4 linked regions of the Homo sapiens genome follow. The protein of the gene in region 3 purifies or fractionates together with the protein of the main gene of each other region. This does not show direct contact. Each region holds a gene or a part of one and is shown on either strand. Other genes may lie near its edges.

Region 1 (4,509 bases), on a different chromosome or scaffold from region 3:
TTTTTACACAAATATAGCCTGTTTTAATTGTCTTCCCAACCCTATTTGAGGCAGAGACTCTGCGTGAGAGGGAAAGGGTTGAAGAAACTCAGTGTTTTTCAAACTCTGAGATCCATTAATGGATGGGGAAACTAACTGAGCCACGACTAGAATTTTAAAAAAATATATAAACAGAAAACATCAATGTGTACTGTAGCAGTAGGGGTTATATATGATTTCATGAGATTTTTGTTTCAGGCGTAACTGTGTATGTCTACATATACTGGGTTGTGACATAAAATGTCACTTCTTACTGGGGGTTCTAAGTCAAAAGTTTGAGAGCTACAAGCGCTAAGTTACCATTCCCCAAAGAGTGTTCTACGGAACAATAATAATCCCACAGTGAGGGATCTATGCCAATAAAAGATTTTATAAAACCATGGATTTGCTAAACACAGAATACCCTATCTTGTTCTTGAAGACTCACAATGTGCTTCTGCATACTAAAGATCCTAACAAAGTTAGAAACCTGTTTAACTTTGCTTAATCCAGTAGTTCCTAAACTTATTTGACCACAAAGCCCCTTTTCTGAACAATACCAGTTGGCATCCTGCAGAATAATCTTTGGGAAATGCTGTTCCAGGCAAATGCTACTGTGAATCCCTCTACCTTAATTACCTGTTGAGTCAGCCTCTCTCTTTCCTTCTCTAGCATGTAGGTGACATCATCTCCTTCAGCCGTATCCTGTGCATGCCGCTGCCTTTCTTCCTCAAGGTCTAGGATCACCTTTAAAGAATTTTTTAAATTTCATTTTCAAATATCAAGGAGTCACATTTATTAATACAACCAATAATAAGTGCCAAATCAGGCACCTTAGATAGTTCCAGAGATCAAACAAACAAACGAATAAATGAAACCCAGCAAGGGCTATCAAGGAGCACACTGCCTTACAGTGAAAGACATGAAAGCTCTGTGTTAAACAGTAAGATACTTACTTTACTTGAAGTATGTAGAGAATGATATGCAAACAGAGAGAAGAGAGCAACTAATTAGCTAGAGGGGTTGAGGAGGTGTCGAGAATTAACAGAAATTCCAAGAAACTGCAGGCAGTTTGGTGTTACTAGGGGCCAGGTGTAGGTGATGGAGCAAGACAGGACCACAGAAACCTGAAAGCTGAGATTTTCTTCTCAATTCTCAAATCACCAGAGGCACCAAAGAAGGAGCCTGAAATTCAACATTTCAAATAGGTGACATTCTAAGTGTGCCTTGTTTAACTAATAATATACATTTTTATATAGTTAGATAAGAGGTGGATAGACTCTCTTGACTTCCTACTGCATGTAAAAAGGCTCAAATATAGAGACCTTAAATGGAGATTTTTCATACGCCCTTTTATTTAACTTGCCTACCCCTATTTCACTTACCCTGGTGCCAAAGGATTAAGCCCAATTTTAAGGAGAAGACAAATATATTTATTTTTCGAGACAGGGTCTTGCTTTGTCACCCAGGCTGGACTGTAGTAGTGCAATCATGGCTCACTGCTGCCTTGGCCTCCCGAGCTCAAGAGATTCTCCCACCTCTCAGCCTCCCAAGTAGCTGGGACTACAGGTGTGCGCCACCACGCCCAGCTGATTTTAGTATTTTTTGTAGAGATGGGGTTTTGCCATCTTGCCCAGGCTGGTCTGGAACTCCTGGGCTCAAGTGATCCACCCGCCTCAGCCTCCCAAAATGCTGGGATTACAGGTGTGAGCCATCACACATGGCCAAGAATACAAATTTAAAGAGACATTTTTCACATAATCCCATCTACAACTGCAAATATTCTGATTGCTTAGTAGCTTCTGCTCATGCTTCAGAAGTGCCTTGGCCCAGACCTCCAGGGTAGAGCACTCTTGTCCCAAAGGCCATTTCTTAGTCTTCTCACTAAAAATTTTTATGAGTGAAGAGAGTAAATTTTCTGGGACATGAAACCTGTCTATAAAAATAAAAATGAGCTCATGCCTGTAATCCCAGCACTTTTGGGAGGCAGAGGCAGGAGGATTGCTTGAGCACAGGAGTTTGAGACCAGCCATTTATTTCTCCCTCTCCCTCTCCCTCCCCCACCCCCTTCCTTCCTTTTGAGGAGACAGGGTCTTACTCTCACCCAAGCTGAAATGCAGTGGCATCATCTCGGCTCACTGCAATCTTTGCCTCCTAGGCTCAAGTGATCCTCCCACCTCAGCCTCCTGAGCAGCTGAGACTACAGGCATACACCACTATGGCCTGCTGATTTTTTGTAGAAATGGGGTGTCGCCATGTTGCCCAGGCTGGTCTCAAACACCTGGACTCAAGTGGTCCTTCTGCCTCAGCTTCCCAAAGTGATGGGATTACAGGTGTGACCCACTGTGCCCAACCCAAAACCCCATTTCTACAAAAAAGTACAAAAATTAGCCAGGCATGGTGAGGTGTGCATGTAGTCCCAGCTACTCAGGAGGCTGAGGTGGAAGGATCACCTCAGCCCAGGGAGGTCGAGGTTGCAGTGAGCCATGATTATGCCGTTGCACTCCAGCCCAGGCAACGGAGTGAGACTTTGTCTCAAAAAAAAAAAAAGAGGCCAGGAGTGGTGGCTCATGCCTGTAATCTCAGCACTTTGGGAGGCCAAAGCAGGTGGATCACCTGAGGTTGGGAGTTCGAGACCAGCCTGACCAACATGGAGAAACCCTGTCTCTACTAAAAATACAAAATTAGCCAGGCATGGTGGCACATGCCTGTAATCCCAGCTACTCGGGAGGCTGAGGCAGGAGAATCGCTTGAACCCAGTAGGCAGAGGTTGTGGTGAGCCAAGATTGTGCCATTGCACTCCAGCCTGAGCAACAAGAGTGAAACTCTGTCTAAAAAAAAAAAAAAAAAAAAAAAAAAAGAAGAGACTGGTGCTGTGGTGTATGCTTGTAGTCCCAGATACTAGGGAGGCTGAGGTGGATCACTGGAGCCCAAGAGTTCCAGGCTATAGGGTGCTATGATCGCACCTGTTAATAGCCACTGTACTCCCGCCCAGGCAACACAGCGAGACCCTGTCTCTCAAAATAAATGAAAGAAAAAAAATTTGGCACATTTCCTTTTTTTAATCTAATTTTTCAATTTAATAGAAAGACATGCTTTTGGCCAAAAGTGGTAAGTCTTATCTTCTCCCTTTTGGGAGTCCTCAAAAATTACAGAAATGGAATAAAAAGACTAAAACCCCACAAAGGAGAGAGCCTCTAGCAGAGAAAAAATTTTAATAATATTTTGAAGAAGAAAAGAGGCTGGAGTTGTGGTAACTACTTTACTTTGAAGGAGGGAAGCTGTTTTGCCTTGCAGAGCCCCAAAGAGATGGAACCTGGAGGTGGCAGGTACTGCAGAGGAGAGGTGAAATGTAGAATAGAAAACAGGAGAACTGGCTCAAAGCCTGTTTTTTTGTTTGTTTGTTTTGTGTTTTTTTTTTTTTTTTTGAGACAGTCTTGCTCTGTCACCCAAGCTGGATTACAGTGGTGTGATCTCAGCTCACTGCAACCTCCACCTCCTGGGCTCAAGCTATTCTTCTGCCTCAGCCTCCCGAGTAGCTGGGATTACAGGAACGCCACCATGCCTGGCTAATTTTTGTATTTTTAGCAGAGATGGGGTTTCACCATGTTGGCTGGCCTGGCCTCGAACTCCTGACCTCAAGTGATCTGCCTGTCTTGGCCTCCCAAAGTGCTGGGATTACAGGCATGAGTCACTGTGTCTGGCCTTCAAAGCCTGTATTTTCAGAATTATTTGTCCCTTCACCCTGATTCCTGCACACAGACCATCAGCATCTGGCCTCTGTCACATCTACTATTCCCAAATCCTGAGCCTGTCACATTCAAGAAATAGTGTGACAGGCTCAGGATTTGGGAATAGTAGATGTGACAGAGAATGGTGGTGGGAAAAGAGGATTAAATTTGTTCTGGGTAAGGGTTAAGGAGAGGAAAGGGAGGCGGGGTGTAAGATAACTAAATCTGCACCTATATAAAAGAAAGTAATATAAATGTCTAAAATTGATAAAGCAAGAGAGAACAGTGCAGTATTTAGAAATATGGAGGTTAGCTACCAAAGTGAATGGCTAAAAGAAAAAACTGGTTGCCTGTGAATACTGGGGAGGATGGGGAATGAGAAGAGGTGGAATAGAAAACTGTTTTTCATTGTAAGCACAATGACCATGTAATTTATTATTCAAACCAGAACATTTCTGACAGTCAAAGGGAATATGGTTAATAACTAAGCCAAGGTGACAGGCATAAGCTGAGACTATGAGCACCCTAATTATAAGCCTCTAGGTACTGTTTGATTTCTAACAAAGTCAGTCTTCTACTTTGATAAACCACTTAAACTTGAACCTGGGAGGTGGTGGTTGCAGTGAGCCAAGATTGTACCACTGCACTCCAGCCTGGGTGACAGAGTGAGACTTCACCTCAAAAAAAAAAAAAAAAAGAATAGATAGGTACTTTGTTTCAAAAATTTAATATTCACTTAAAACATTTAGCACTGCAATAT
Region 2 (4,509 bases), on a different chromosome or scaffold from region 3:
ATCACCACTACATAATTCATCCATGTAACCAAAAACCACTTGTATCTCTAAAGGTATTGGAATAAAAAAATTTAAATAACCCTGAGGTATGTTTTCTACGGGGAAAGCAAGATAAGTGATTTTCTCCCCTTATTTATTAGATTTCAGAATAATGAATTGGTGGTTTTTCATCTACCAAAGACTGGCCATGAAGTGTTTTCTCACTCCACTTAGATTTAAACATATTTGATGTATTTAAATCTGGTGCAGTTGTTTTTCTTGTTTTAGAGACAGGGTCTTGCTATGTTGCCCAGGCTGGTCTTGAACTCCTGGGCTCACGCAATCCTCCCATCTCGGCCTCCCAAAGTGCCACGGCCAGCCTATTTTTCTTATTGATGCTCAAATTATCCCATCTTTGGTCTGTGTAAATGTCTTCAGAGTGATAGCTTCATGCTGTCATTTCAGACAAGATGTTTCAGGCTCATTTTGTACTTTTCCTGCCCCAGACATGAAGTCTGCTTTTCCCCCATGGTACTCTTATTCCTTTTGTTTTAACCATTGTTTCAGAATGCTTGGTGCCTTTGAAGGTAATTGATTATTTTTGCCTACAAATGTGAATATGGTGGCTTGCAGAAAATATGACAAATATAAAAGTAACTAATTTTGTATATTTTAGGGAAATTCTCAATTGCCTATAACTTTTTTTTTCTATAGGAAGTGGAAATTAGTAAGTTTGTGAAGGCATAATTTACTTATGCAACTTGTAAATACATCTTTAGTTAATACAGGGCCAGAATCATTTATGTTTGGAGGTACCTTAATATATAATTTAAAGTATATCATAATGTGTTAATTTTTTTCAAACAATAAATGCTTTTAAAAAATAACTTGTCTATAATTATAAATATCTTTTATTGTAGAATCAAACAGAAGATAGTTTACGAAAGGAACTTATAGCATTACAAGAGGATAAACATAACTATGAGACAACAGCCAAAGAGTCCCTGAGGCGGGTTCTTCAGGAGAAAATTGAAGTGGTTAGAAAACTTTCAGAAGTTGAGGTATTTCAATCAAAAAAAAAATACTAAATAGTATTATGAGTGTTCAAAAAAATCTCAAGCATTCCAGGATACTTTAAACTTGGGTATTATTATATAGTTAGGAAATACTTTCTGTCTGTCAGGTGGGAAGGAACAGTTACGCTGCTTTCATTGACAGCAATTCTCCATGTGAGTTTTGGTACTTACTCCCTAGTCAATGGCTGAGGAAATAAAAGCGTAACCAGGGAATCTTATTGTTTGCATTCTGCTTAGGATTCACCCTCCATACAGCAGACCATGATATGTGCTGGGGAATTGATTTCCTGTCACTTGGTTTTGCTTTGCTTCTATTTGAGGGGGGTCAGTGTAAGGCCAAGAGTCTACACTACTTGTTCTTTTTTAATTCACTCTGCAGAGAGGAAAACTAGCTGTGTCATATATTTAGGAAGTTCAAAGGTGAAATCATCTCCAAGGTCCTTTCTAGGTCTTGGAGGAGCAATCAAAATGCAATTTTTATTGCTTTGGGGAAAAAAATTCTAATTCATAATATAGATCTTTTCTTTGAACCACTGCAAAATTACCACATAAATAATGTATTACTAGAATTAGTTAAAATGCTCATCAGAAACTAAATGGTAAACATACCTTTCCTTACTACAGGTATAGTTTGTATTGCTACCTCATCCCATAGTGCCTGATTCACTGTTGTGTGATTAATTTGATATATAAAGAAAGTTACTAAGTGTCTTTTAATTTTTTATTAAATTGATTGCTGGATATTATTAAACTTGCTTTCAAGGATTGATAGGCTTAAAATATTTTCACAGCTAAAAGTCATACCCATTGGCCTTTCAAAAATGTAATTATATAAAGGCAGCATCCTTTTCCTGCCCCTGCTCTCCCTCCACTTTTATTTTTTTGTTGTTTTTGTTAATTCTTAGTTATGTTTTCTGTTTTAGTGTGAATTGAAATTCTTATGTTATTTGACTCAGCTTTATTTAAAGTCCAGGGCAGATGTTGATTTAGAATAGTCCATAGAATTATACTTTTTATAAATTTCATTTAGAAGGAATTCTAAATAACAAATATACACTTATTCTAATTAAATTGCCTGTAAACTTGAATCGCAGCGAAGTCTGAGTAATACTGAAGATGAATGTACCCATCTGAAAGAAATGAATGAAAGGACTCAGGAAGAATTAAGAGAATTAGCCAACAAATATAATGGAGCAGTTAATGAGATTAAAGATTTATCTGATAAATTAAAGGTATGTATTTACTCTGCCTGAAAGTATGTTAAGCTAATAATCCCTAACACACTAGATAGCTTAAGATTTTAGGTATTGCTTTAGCTGGGCGTGGGGTGGCGGGCGCCTGTAATCCCAGCTTCTCAGGAGGCTGAGGTAGGAGAATTGCTTGAACCCAGGAGACGGAGGTTGCAGCGAGCTGAGATCACGTCACTGCACTCCAGCCTGGGCGACAGAGCGATACTCCATCTCAAAGGAAAAACAAACAAACAAACAAACAAAAAACAGTTTGGGCCAGGCGCAGTGGCTCACGCCTGTAATCCCAGCACTTTGGGAGGCCGAGGCGGGCAGATCATGAGGTCAAGAGATTGAGACCATCCTGGCCAACATGGTGAAACCCCGTCTCTACTAAAAATACAAAAATTAGCTGGGCGTGGTGACACATGCCTGTAGTCCCAGCTCCTTGGGAGTCTAAGGCAGAAGAATCACTTGAACCCAGGAGGCAGAGGTTGCAGTGAGCCAAGATTGCACCACTGCACTCCAGCCTGGCGACAGAGCAAGACTTCGTCTCACAAAAAAAAAAAAAAAAAAAAAATTCAGTTTGAAAACCACTGGTATAGATAGATATTTTGAATTGATTTGCATAGTCTCCTTGAATGTGTTAAATTATGCTGAAAGTATGAAAGCAGGATGTAGGTGGTACTACATATTAAATAAGATTTCTATAAAAAAAGATTTTAGGTATTGCTGAATAGTTATTGATGTAAAAATTTGGTAACAGTTGAAATTTATAGTGAAAATAAGGTGTCTGTATTCCATTTAGCCCAACCTCCATTACTATAGATAATTGAAAGCCTGTAAATGCTGACATAGTTCCTCTGGATGAATATGTAGTCAGTGCTTCACAATAGACATTTCTAAAATATATAACAGGAAGTAGATGAGAATCAGCAAAACCCATGATATTCAGATGTTTTAAAACCTAAAACTGCTTATCATTAGGCCATCTAAAAGGCAGGGCCCAGCTATTTAGTGCTGTGCTGGAACAAGCCCAGAGAGAATCTGGGAATGATCTCCCTTTTAGCTTTCAGGGATGCTGTTAACTCTGCTTTAGCTGCCATTCCCTCTATCTATGAGACATCTAGGATAAGGACAGATCAGATCATAGGGTAATGATAGGGTAATGTCTAGTTGGTCCTTTAGAATCTTATAACTGAGGAAAAAAAAAATCTTATAACTGTTTGTGAAGGTCCATCTTGGTTTAATTCAAACTATGGATTGAGTGCCTAGAAGATATGTGTTTGTTAGAGAAGACCAGAGCATACCTCCGTTGGTTAACCTATGATAGTTTTCAAAGTTGGTCTTGTTAAAAGGAGATTGTCATTGTCCATTTTTGTTGCTATAAAGGAATAGCTGAGCCTGGGTAATTTATAAAGATAAGAGGTTTATTTGGCTCACAGTTCTGCAGGCTGAAGCTTCAGGCTGCTTCCACTGATGGCAGAAAGCAAAGTGGAGCTGGTACGTGTTCCATGGTGAGAGAGGGTCTGGGAGAGGTGCCAGGCTCTTTTTAAAAACCAGCTTTCATAGGACTAATAGAGTGAGAATTCACTCATTACCATGAGGACAGCACCAAGCCATTCATGAGGGATCTGCTCCCATAACCCAAACACCTCTCATTAGACCCCATCTCCAACACTGAGGATCAAATTTCAACATTGAGGCTTGGGGGACGAACATCCAAACTATAGGCAGAGAGGTCTTTTTGAATAGTGATTGTACTGTCATCTCGTTACTAAATAATTTTGTTTAAAATTTCAGAATGTTAACATGATAGAACTTCAAAATTGAAATGATAGTAATTTTAGGGAAAAATCTTACTTCCCTCTTTAAAAATACGATTTTTTTTTCCACATTGACCCTTTACCTCTGTGTGTACTGAGCCTACTTGCTTCCTCCAAGTTTCTCTCTCCTGGGTGTTATGGAGGAATAACCCAATGCAGATAATTTTTGACATCAAGCCTTTGTCTTTATCATCTTTACTGGTTTAGAAATGTCAGGTTAGCCGGGCGCAGTGGCTCATGCCTGTAATCCCAGCACTTTGGGAGGCCAAGGTGGGCTGATCATCTGAGGTCAGGCGTTCGAGACCAGCCTGACCAACATGGAGAAACCCCGTCTCTTCTAAAAATACAAAATTAGCTGGGTATGGTGGCGCATGCCTGTAATCCCAGCTACTTGGGAGGCTG
Region 3 (5,520 bases):
TTTAGGCATTGCTTCTTTAAATCTGAGGACTGTGTGAGGCAGCTTTCTGCATCAAGAAAGCATCAAGTTTCTAACTCCGCGCTGGTGTAGCTGTCAGGAGGACTTATGGAGGGGTGAGGGAAGCCCTTTCTAAATACGTGACTTTCAGGAGTGGAGGAGAACTTGGTTAACACATACTGAGGTTTTTTGTTTTTGATGAGGTTTTTTTTTTTAAATTTTTTATTTTTTTGAGACCTAGTTTCGCTCTTGTTGCCCAGGCTGGAGTGCGATGGTGCGATCTCGGCTCACCGCAACCTCCGCTTCCCTGATTCAAGTGATTCTTCTGTCTTGGACTCTCAAGTAGCTCGGATCACAGGCATACGCAACCTCGCCCGGCTAATTTTTTTTGTATTCAGTAGAGATGGGGTTTTACCATGTTAGTCAGGCTGGTTGCGAACTCCTGACTTCAGGTGATCAACCCGCCTTGGCCTCCCAGAGTGCTGGGATTTCAGGTGTGCACCACCAAGCCTGGCCTGATGAGTTTATTTTTTAGTAATTTCAGATTTATAACAAATTAAGTAAGAGCTCCCAAATCCCCCCTCACCCCCAGGGGCCATTCACCTATTAACATCTGTCACGGGGCTGGCATGTTGTTCGGGTTAGATGAGGCAACCTTCATGCCGTGTCATCACCTAAAGCTCCTGTTTCCAGCAGGGTTCATCGAGTTGGCCTGGCCTCTTTATACTTTCTGGGGACTTTTTCCCTTGCATGGAAAGTTCAGTTTAGGTTTTTTTGTTGTTGTTATTTGTTTGTTTGTTTGTTTTTTTAATGGAGTTTGATTCTTGTTGCCCAGGTTGGAGTGCAATGGTGCGGTCTTGGCTCACTGCAACCTCCGCCTCCCGGGTTCAAGCAATTCTCCTGCCTCAGCCTCCTGAGTAGCTGGGATTACAGGCATGAGCCGCCACGCCCAGATAATTTTTTTGTATTAGAGATGGGGTTTCACCATGCTGGCCAGGCTGGTCTCGAACTCCTGACCTCAAGTGATCCACCTGCCTCGGCCTCCCAAAGTGCTAGAATTACAGGCGTGAGCCACCACGCCCGGCCAAGTTTAGTTTTTGAACAAAAAGGGAGAAAGGAAGAAACCAGAGAAGAATTGAGGTGCGCTCCCTTGGACTCCCCCTTCCCTACAGGTCCCTTCCTCCCCAGCAGGGCAGCCTCTGCCTGTCCCCCGCCTCTTGTGACCGGCGCTGTCTGCCCTCTGTCCCCGCCCTGGCCCCACAGCACTCTCGAGTGGACCCTGAGGAGCTCTTCACCAAGCTCGACCGCATTGGCAAGGGCTCGTTTGGGGAGGTCTACAAGGGCATCGATAACCACACAAAGGAGGTGGTGGCCATCAAGATCATCGACCTGGAGGAGGCCGAGGATGAGATCGAGGACATCCAGCAGGAGATCACTGTCCTCAGTCAGTGCGACAGCCCCTACATCACCCGCTACTTTGGCTCCTACCTAAAGGTGCCTGTTGTGGGGAGGCGGGGACCCTGCTGGTGCTGTGCCCGGCTCTCTTCCATGTCAGAGGGACTGAGTGACATGCCAGAGGGTGCAAGGCGGTCTTGACGGTTCAGTGCATGCCCTCCGGGAAACTGCCCTGGGCAGGCAGGGTGTGAGCCCTCGTCCACGAGGGTCAGTTGGCTCTAAATGGCCATTGGGACCCACTTGCCTGCCTGTGGTAATGCAGTGAGGGCGCTGCTAGGAGCACTCTGGGGGGCCCCTACTGGCAGTGGTGAGTGGGCCTGTGAGGAGCAGGTGGCTGGTGGTGCCAGTGTCTGGGGTGTAGGGAACGCTGTGGCCATCCTGCCCAGGAGGGTGATGGGTGTGTCGGGTCACATGCTTGCCAGCCATGCCCTCTTCCCAGCCCTGTAGGACTGGATCAGCAGCCTGGTTTTTGATGGGGTCTTGGTGAAGTGGAGTCAGCCACTGCTGTGTGTACTCAACCTGTCCTCTGAGCATCTGTAGCAGTAGTGTGGCAGGAGGGGAAGATGGGCAAGGCCGAGAGAGCCCTTTCCTGTTCAGGGTTCTTGGCAGGGATGGGACCGGTGGGGCCTGGGCCCTGGCTGACTCCGGCCTGTGACTCCCACCCTGGAGCATGCCCTTCCTCTTGCTGCCAAATGCTGATGGGTTTGTCTCCGGTCCCAGAGCACCAAGCTATGGATCATCATGGAGTACCTGGGCGGCGGCTCAGCACTGGACTTGGTGAGGCATAGGCCATGGCAGTGGGGGGTCATGCAGTGTCCGAGTCCCCTGCCCCTCAGACTCATGGGCTCCAGGGGCCACCTCTCGTTTGGTGTCATGGCACGTTAGGTGTTAATTAGGAATCGTCTAAAGCAAAAATGAACTGCCATCTGCACGTCTGCCCAGTTGGTGCTGAAAGGGGTCCTGGCCTGTGGGAGTGGGCGGGGGCAGGCCTGCTGGGAGATGGCTGGGAGCCTATTTTTCTGTTACATGACAGTAAGGTGAGGCTGGTTTATATGCTTTAGAAAGAGCCTCCACCACCCCACTCCCATCTGAAACTTAGTTCTGTTTGGGAAGTAAAGGAACACGAAGCCCCCAGCTATCTGCAGGGACAGCCCTTCCCTGTGAGAGAGGCAGAGAACTCAGGCATTGGGCCTGGGACAGGAGCTGAGGCCCTGCTGTCGCACCTTCCTCTCCAGCTTAAACCAGGTCCCCTGGAGGAGACATACATTGCCACGATCCTGCGGGAGATTCTGAAGGGCCTGGATTATCTGCACTCCGAACGCAAGATCCACCGAGACATCAAAGGTCCTGCTGGGGGTGGATGTGGCTCTTGTAACGTCCTGAGCCCCACTGACCTTAGAGAGGCCGGGGCCTGTGAGGGGCAAGTGGCTAGTGGTGCCCAGGGTCTGGAGTATAGAGAACCTTGTGGCCACCCTGAAACTGAGCAGTCCTGTCTCGCTCCCTTTCCAGAAGATACTACTTGTAACGGTTTCCTTGTACGCTGAGGAAACCAGCTGTGGACTGAGTGTAGGAAAGGGCCACACTTGGCTGGAGTTGTTGGTTCCCTGTGGTGCACGGCACAGCAGCAGGTGTAGAATTGAGTAGCCCCAGCGTGTGGTCTGGCCCTGCTGAGAGCAGACGGGAGGCTGGGCCAGCCCATGGGGAGGGACTTGCCACTGGCAACGAGCCATCTCTGTCATGTAGGGGACGATTCTGGTGGAGCAGGGGGCTTCCTGGCAGGCCCGTGTTGGCTACACCCTTGGTCAGGGTCACCTCTGCGGTAGCCCCCAGTGGGCGAAGTCGCTTGTCGTTGGGATTTGTCGTAAAAGCCAAATGCAGGAAGAGCCCTGGAGCTCGGAGTGGAGCCGTTGGGCTCCTGCTGGCAGTGCCCCTGTGGCCCTAGGTGGCCCTGGGTTTGAGAGTGGCAAGGAGGGCTGAGGTCCTGAGGACAGCCCTGCTGTGCCCTAGGAGGCCAGGTGGATGGTACCCTGGCCCTTCTCAGGGGGCCCGGGGTGGAGCCACGTGGAGCCTGGGATGACGCCTGCCTGTCCTGTGTCAAGCAGCTGCCAACGTGCTACTCTCGGAGCAGGGTGACGTGAAGCTGGCGGACTTTGGGGTAGCAGGGCAGCTCACAGACACGCAGATTAAGAGGAACACATTCGTGGGCACCCCCTTCTGGATGGCACCTGAGGTCATCAAGCAGTCGGCCTACGACTTCAAGGTGGGTGCAGCGGGCGGGCAGGTGCGGGCACCATGCCTGGCTCGGGTGCTCAGGGCAGCAACAGTCCTTGTGTTCTGTCCAGGCTGACATCTGGTCCCTGGGGATCACAGCCATCGAGCTGGCCAAGGGGGAGCCTCCAAACTCTGACCTCCACCCCATGCGCGTCCTGTTCCTGATTCCCAAGAACAGCCCACCCACACTGGAGGGCCAGCACAGCAAGCCCTTCAAGGAGTTCGTGGAGGCCTGCCTCAACAAAGACCCCCGATTCGTAAGGCCCGCCTCTGGCCCGGTCCCTTCTAGACAGGACGTGGAGGGAGGGCGTTCGCTTGGGGTGGGCGGCACAGCCCGGAGGCCCAGGCCCACCAGCCTTGTAGCTGTGAGGGCCCGCCCCGGTCCAGGCTGCCTCACGTTTGCTTCCCTTAGGCAGAGCTTGGCTGGGCCCAGTGACTAGTGTTCCCCTGACCCCCTGCAGCGGCCCACGGCCAAGGAGCTCCTGAAGCACAAGTTCATCACACGCTACACCAAGAAGACCTCCTTCCTCACGGAGCTCATCGACCGCTATAAGCGCTGGAAGTCAGAGGGGCATGGCGAGGAGTCCAGCTCTGAGGACTCTGACATGTAGGGACCTGGTTTATCCTCATGGTGACCCTAGGTGCTGTGACGTGGGTGGTCCCCACTCCAGAAGCAGGGGCGTGGGCCCTGGGGGTGAGGGTGACCAGATATAGTGTTGGGCAGGGACCCCCTCAAGGCTGCAGGACAGGGCCTGCTGAGGCATCAGCTGGACCCCGTGGCCTGGCAGAGCCCCGTCTGGTACCTCGGGTTTCCCTTGGCCGTGAGGTGTGCCCTGAGGCCCTCATGCCTCCTGGCCCTCTCCCCACTGGCCCTGGCAACTCCTCATCCTCTTCAGTGATGGCGAGGCGGAGGACGGGGAGCAGGGCCCCATCTGGACGTTCCCCCCTACCATCCGGCCGAGTCCACACAGCAAGCTTCACAAGGGGACGGCCCTGCACAGTTCACAGAAGGTCTGTTCCTGGCCTGGCCTTTGCCCTCTGTGCACCCCTGGGGCCGTGGGATGGGCTGGATGCGGGACCCAGCTTTGTCCACCCAGTGTCTGGAGCTTGGACAAGGAGCTTGGGAAAGGCAGGGGTGGTCTGAAGCCCACTGTGGCACTAGGCCTGGTGTGGAGACCCCGAGCCCCAGCATGTGCCGGGAAGATGAGGGCCTGTTTGGAGCCAAATTTGTGAGGAGAGGGTGGGAGTCACAGGCCCTCAGAGTCAGGAGAGGGTGGGAGTCACAAGCCCTCAGAGTCAGGAGAGGGTGGGAGTCACAGGCCCTCAGAGTCAGGAGAGGGTGGGAGTCACAGGCCCTCAGAGTCAGGAGAGGGTGGGAGTCGCCCTCAGAGTCAGGCCATCCGGGTGGCTTGATGGTTTTGGGGCCGGCCCTGGACATGTGCCCCGACAGGCTGCTCCCAGCCTCTGTCTCTTCAAGGCTAGAGCCTGGGCAGGGATGGGAGTGCCCTGCCTGTCACCTGCACTGCCCTGCTCACCCTGGGCCTCCACTCCTTTGCAGCCTGCGGAGCCCGTCAAGAGGCAGCCGAGGTCCCAGTGCCTGTCCACGCTGGTCCGGCCCGTCTTCGGAGAGGTGAGGATGGGGCTGGGACTGGGCCTGGAGTCCCGTCAAGGACAAGGCTGTGACACTGTTGCACGGAGATGTCTCCCTCACAGCACTGTGGGGTGGTTTCAGCTTCTAGCTTTCCTGCAGCTGATTGTGGGCTGGGTTTTCTGAGTGGAAGGAGCAGAATCTGCTGC
Region 4 (3,349 bases), on a different chromosome or scaffold from region 3:
TTTAGGGGCACTCTTATTTTTCTGGGGATTCTAAAAACCTTTGTCATCTGTCCTTTATTTTATGACAGTGAAAGTACCAGTCTCTGAATAACTGAAATCAGTACAATAGACTTTTATGCCTTAAGAGCTTCATTTTGAAATCACGGCGGGGAACCTGCTTTAGACTACTAAAATTTAGAAAGTGAGACTGAAGATAAAGTGATAGAGAACAAATTATGAAAGGTTATTGTTAAATGTCTACAAATTTTTTTACAGTAACTAACCAAAAGGAGGCCAGAAAGCAAAGTTATTTACCAGTGCCAGATTTGGTCACTTACTTTCCTTCTTGAAAAATATCATCAGCTACCCCTACCCTGCTGCTCTCAAATGCCAATGAGCTAAACTTGTCCTACATTCCATGCTATCATGGAAAGTAATAAAAATACTAAAAATTACTAGGAGATTCTAGCCTATTCACTGGCTTTACGAGTTTATATAAAAATAAATCTAGATGTTATTTTCTTCATCTCTAATGTGATTGTAAAATAAGGCAATTTCTGAGCTTCTGTTTACAATTATAGCTGCTTAAGTAAGAAGGCTTTGCAGTGGTGGAAGATGTTGAACACGATTCCTAGCTGCATAAGTGTTCTTTAGATTCAAGTTGCCAACTGCATATATCATTGAGTAGATTAATGCCAATTACAGACCTTGCTTGTTTGTTATACCTTCATATGTTCAGTTTTTCCTAACATATGTTTGTGATGTTGTAGCTACCTTGTAGATAGTGACTGCATCTTTGTTTTTGCTTGCCTTTTAGCAAGAAAACAAAGGCTTGAGAGAGATCCTTCAAATAACTCGAGAATCATTTTTGAACCTAAGGAAAGATGATGCGTCGGAAAGTACTTCTTTGTCAGCATTAGTGACCAACAGTGATTTGAGTCTGAGGAAGAGCTGAAGAGTTTCTGAGTCTGTGAGCTTCTTACATGGCTCCAAATGGTCAAATAAGTGAATGAATGAATGGACAGAAAATTCAATCCTTTATTTTTTTCTCTGTAAATATGTACAGTGCACGGGCTATGAGATAGCAACAAAAAATGCATAGTTAATGGTCATAGACTTTATTCCAAAACATAATTGGAAAATAGAAACTGAGCCATTGCCAAATGGTAAAGAAATGAAAAGTTTTCACAGTGACTACTGAATATACCAAGAGCTTTTGGCAGTACTGCTGGCTTTCTGGGTGATTAATTAGGTAAACTTGAATATTCCCAGTAAATGTTTGAGAATGCATAAAATTATACCAATTTAAAAATATAAATTTTTGCCACTGTTTTGTGAACGGAGGATTTGTACGCTAAATTTCATCCTTATTTGGCGTCAAAGTTGATGCAAAGTTTATGTACCATGAGACTTCTAGTGATTGCCTACTTTCACATTTATTTAAATTTTTGTGAAAGAAAATACAGTTTTAAAGGCTATAGGAATGTGTTATATGTACCTTAAACAGATAATTTAATTTTAGCAATTTATCATAACTGATACTTAGCTAACAATTGTCCATAACTTGTTTAAGTGTAAGAAATACCATTTCAGGAATGAAAAAGAAGGAATACTACTTTCTAAGAAAGAAGATCTTATAATAGACATATTTAGTAGGTTAAACTACTCCTTTGAAAGAATAAGTTTTGGTTCAAAGTCAATAATGAAGACGAGATTTGTTTTTCTCTTCTCTGGCTGATTTTTAAGGATATTATGTAGTTCATTTAGTTAACAGAATTGAAATGTTTGATATGGCAAGATAGGTATGGTAATTTCAAAGTGAATTGGGAATTCCTCTGGCTCATAGAACCCTTTTTTTTTTCCTTTAAGTATTCTTGAGATACAAAAAAAAAAAGTAAATACAATTTCAAAAAAAAAGTTCCGGATCTGTTTTTAAGCTCCATCTGGTCCTCATAACCTGCAAGATTTTTCTTAAAACCTTTCAGCTGAAAGTGGGGGTAAAGGTGGAGTAATCTGTGGATTTGTTTCTGTTGTCTTTTAAAATGTCAAATATATAATATGTAATTTTTTTAAAAACCACCAGATACAGAAATGTGCTTTAACATCAGTTGAAACCTAAATTTTCTTATGTTGTGGTGATTGTATTAAAAAGGGATAAAAGAAGAGTGTCAAACATGGTTAAATATATTGTACTCATTTATGTTGAATACGTATTAAAATTAAGACAAATGGAAAATTATACTTTGAGTATATAATTTGTTAAATATTACTTTATATGGTAATTTTATGTATAATTTCATATATTGGTAAAATTCAAAACTACACTTGAGAATTTTTTTATCTTAAGTTTGGGGTGAATGGGGTGGATGAGACTGATTGAATAGAAAAGGGCTAATGGCCCAAACATTATATAGATTTCTTTTTTTCAGTCAGAGGCCTTATTTGATATTTTATAAATAAATGACAGTTTTTATTTTTAAACTTTTTATTGTTTTTGGGAAAGTATTCCTTAATTTAATGACACATTCATTCAGATACTTCTTATCCCTGCTAATAAAGGAAATCTATTTCAAGCTACACCATTGAGATTAAGTCTGAGGCAGTTCATTGAGGCAGCTCTACTATAAAAGCTTACTTGATAAATAATTATTTTTGTAAACAAGTTGGGTTAACTTATTCTTCGTCTTTTTGCTTGGATATGAATTTAAGGTCTTCATGTTTAAAGACATTTACTTTGTTATTTAGTGACACATTTCCATCCTATTTTTTTTTTTTTTTTGGTTGTTGTTAAACAGAACCTTAAGTTTATGTTTGAGGTATGTACTGCATAGGAACCTATTTTATTATTAAAGATGAATGATTAAAATTGGTATGGTCTCCAATTTAATTTGAAAAGTGCTTACCCTTATTCTTATATATGGTTTAATTTTAAGGTTTTTTGTCTCTTCTTAGTGCAAAACTACTTAGCAGTGACCTCTATCTGTATTCCTTAGGAATTAGCAGCTTCTTAGTGTGGATCCTGCAGAACTTCTTACCATTTGTAGTAGGTTGAATCATGTCCCCTAGAAGGTAAGTCTAAGTCCTAACTTGATACACCTGGGAAGGTGACCATATTTGGAAATAGTCTTTACAGATGTGATTAGGGGATCTCAGGATATAATTACCCTGGATTTTGGGTGGGCTCCAAACCCAGTGACTAGTGTCGTTACAATAAGAGAGGAGGAGATATGAAACACAGATATAGCAGCATGAGGACAGAGGCAATGAGTTACGCAAGGACTGCTAGCCACCACCAGAAGCTGCAAGAGAGGCATGGAATGGGTTCTTCACGGGCTCCAGAAAGGACCAAGCCTGCTTGATTTCAGACTTC

What was found. Proteins that work in one complex are often made in the same cells at the same time.
Region 1: the proteins of STK25 (region 3) and CTTNBP2NL purify together in Homo sapiens (affinity purification with mass spectrometry; 8 studies listed by BioGRID and IntAct, with this or other methods). This does not show direct contact.
Region 2: the proteins of STK25 (region 3) and SLMAP purify together in Homo sapiens (affinity purification with mass spectrometry; 5 studies listed by BioGRID and IntAct, with this or other methods). This does not show direct contact.
Region 4: the proteins of STK25 (region 3) and FGFR1OP2 purify together in Homo sapiens (affinity purification with mass spectrometry; 5 studies listed by BioGRID and IntAct, with this or other methods). This does not show direct contact.

Annotation. Positions count from the first base shown.
Region 1 is NC_000001.11:112,450,705-112,455,213, reverse strand, and holds part of CTTNBP2NL (CTTNBP2 N-terminal-like protein), read right to left. Parts: intron 766-4,509; coding exon 658-765; intron 1-657. UniProt on the Homo sapiens protein: Regulates lamellipodial actin dynamics in a CTTN-dependent manner. Associates with core striatin-interacting phosphatase and kinase (STRIPAK) complex to form CTTNBP2NL-STRIPAK complexes.
Region 2 is NC_000003.12:57,859,800-57,864,308, forward strand, and holds part of SLMAP (sarcolemmal membrane-associated protein), read left to right. Parts: intron 1-899; coding exon 900-1,040; intron 1,041-2,149; coding exon 2,150-2,287; intron 2,288-4,509. UniProt on the Homo sapiens protein: Associates with the striatin-interacting phosphatase and kinase (STRIPAK) core complex, forming the extended (SIKE1:SLMAP)STRIPAK complex.
Region 3 is NC_000002.12:241,497,449-241,502,968, reverse strand, and holds part of STK25 (serine/threonine-protein kinase 25), read left to right. Parts: intron 1-1,260; coding exon 1,261-1,491; intron 1,492-2,172; coding exon 2,173-2,229; intron 2,230-2,687; coding exon 2,688-2,796; intron 2,797-3,554; coding exon 3,555-3,712; intron 3,713-3,794; coding exon 3,795-3,980; intron 3,981-4,184; coding exon 4,185-4,330; intron 4,331-4,619; coding exon 4,620-4,734; intron 4,735-5,281; coding exon 5,282-5,353; intron 5,354-5,520. UniProt on the Homo sapiens protein: Oxidant stress-activated serine/threonine kinase that may play a role in the response to environmental stress.
Region 4 is NC_000012.12:26,963,800-26,967,148, forward strand, and holds the end of FGFR1OP2 (FGFR1 oncogene partner 2), read left to right. Parts: intron 1-796; coding exon 797-934; 3' UTR 935-2,849; downstream 2,850-3,349. UniProt on the Homo sapiens protein: May be involved in wound healing pathway.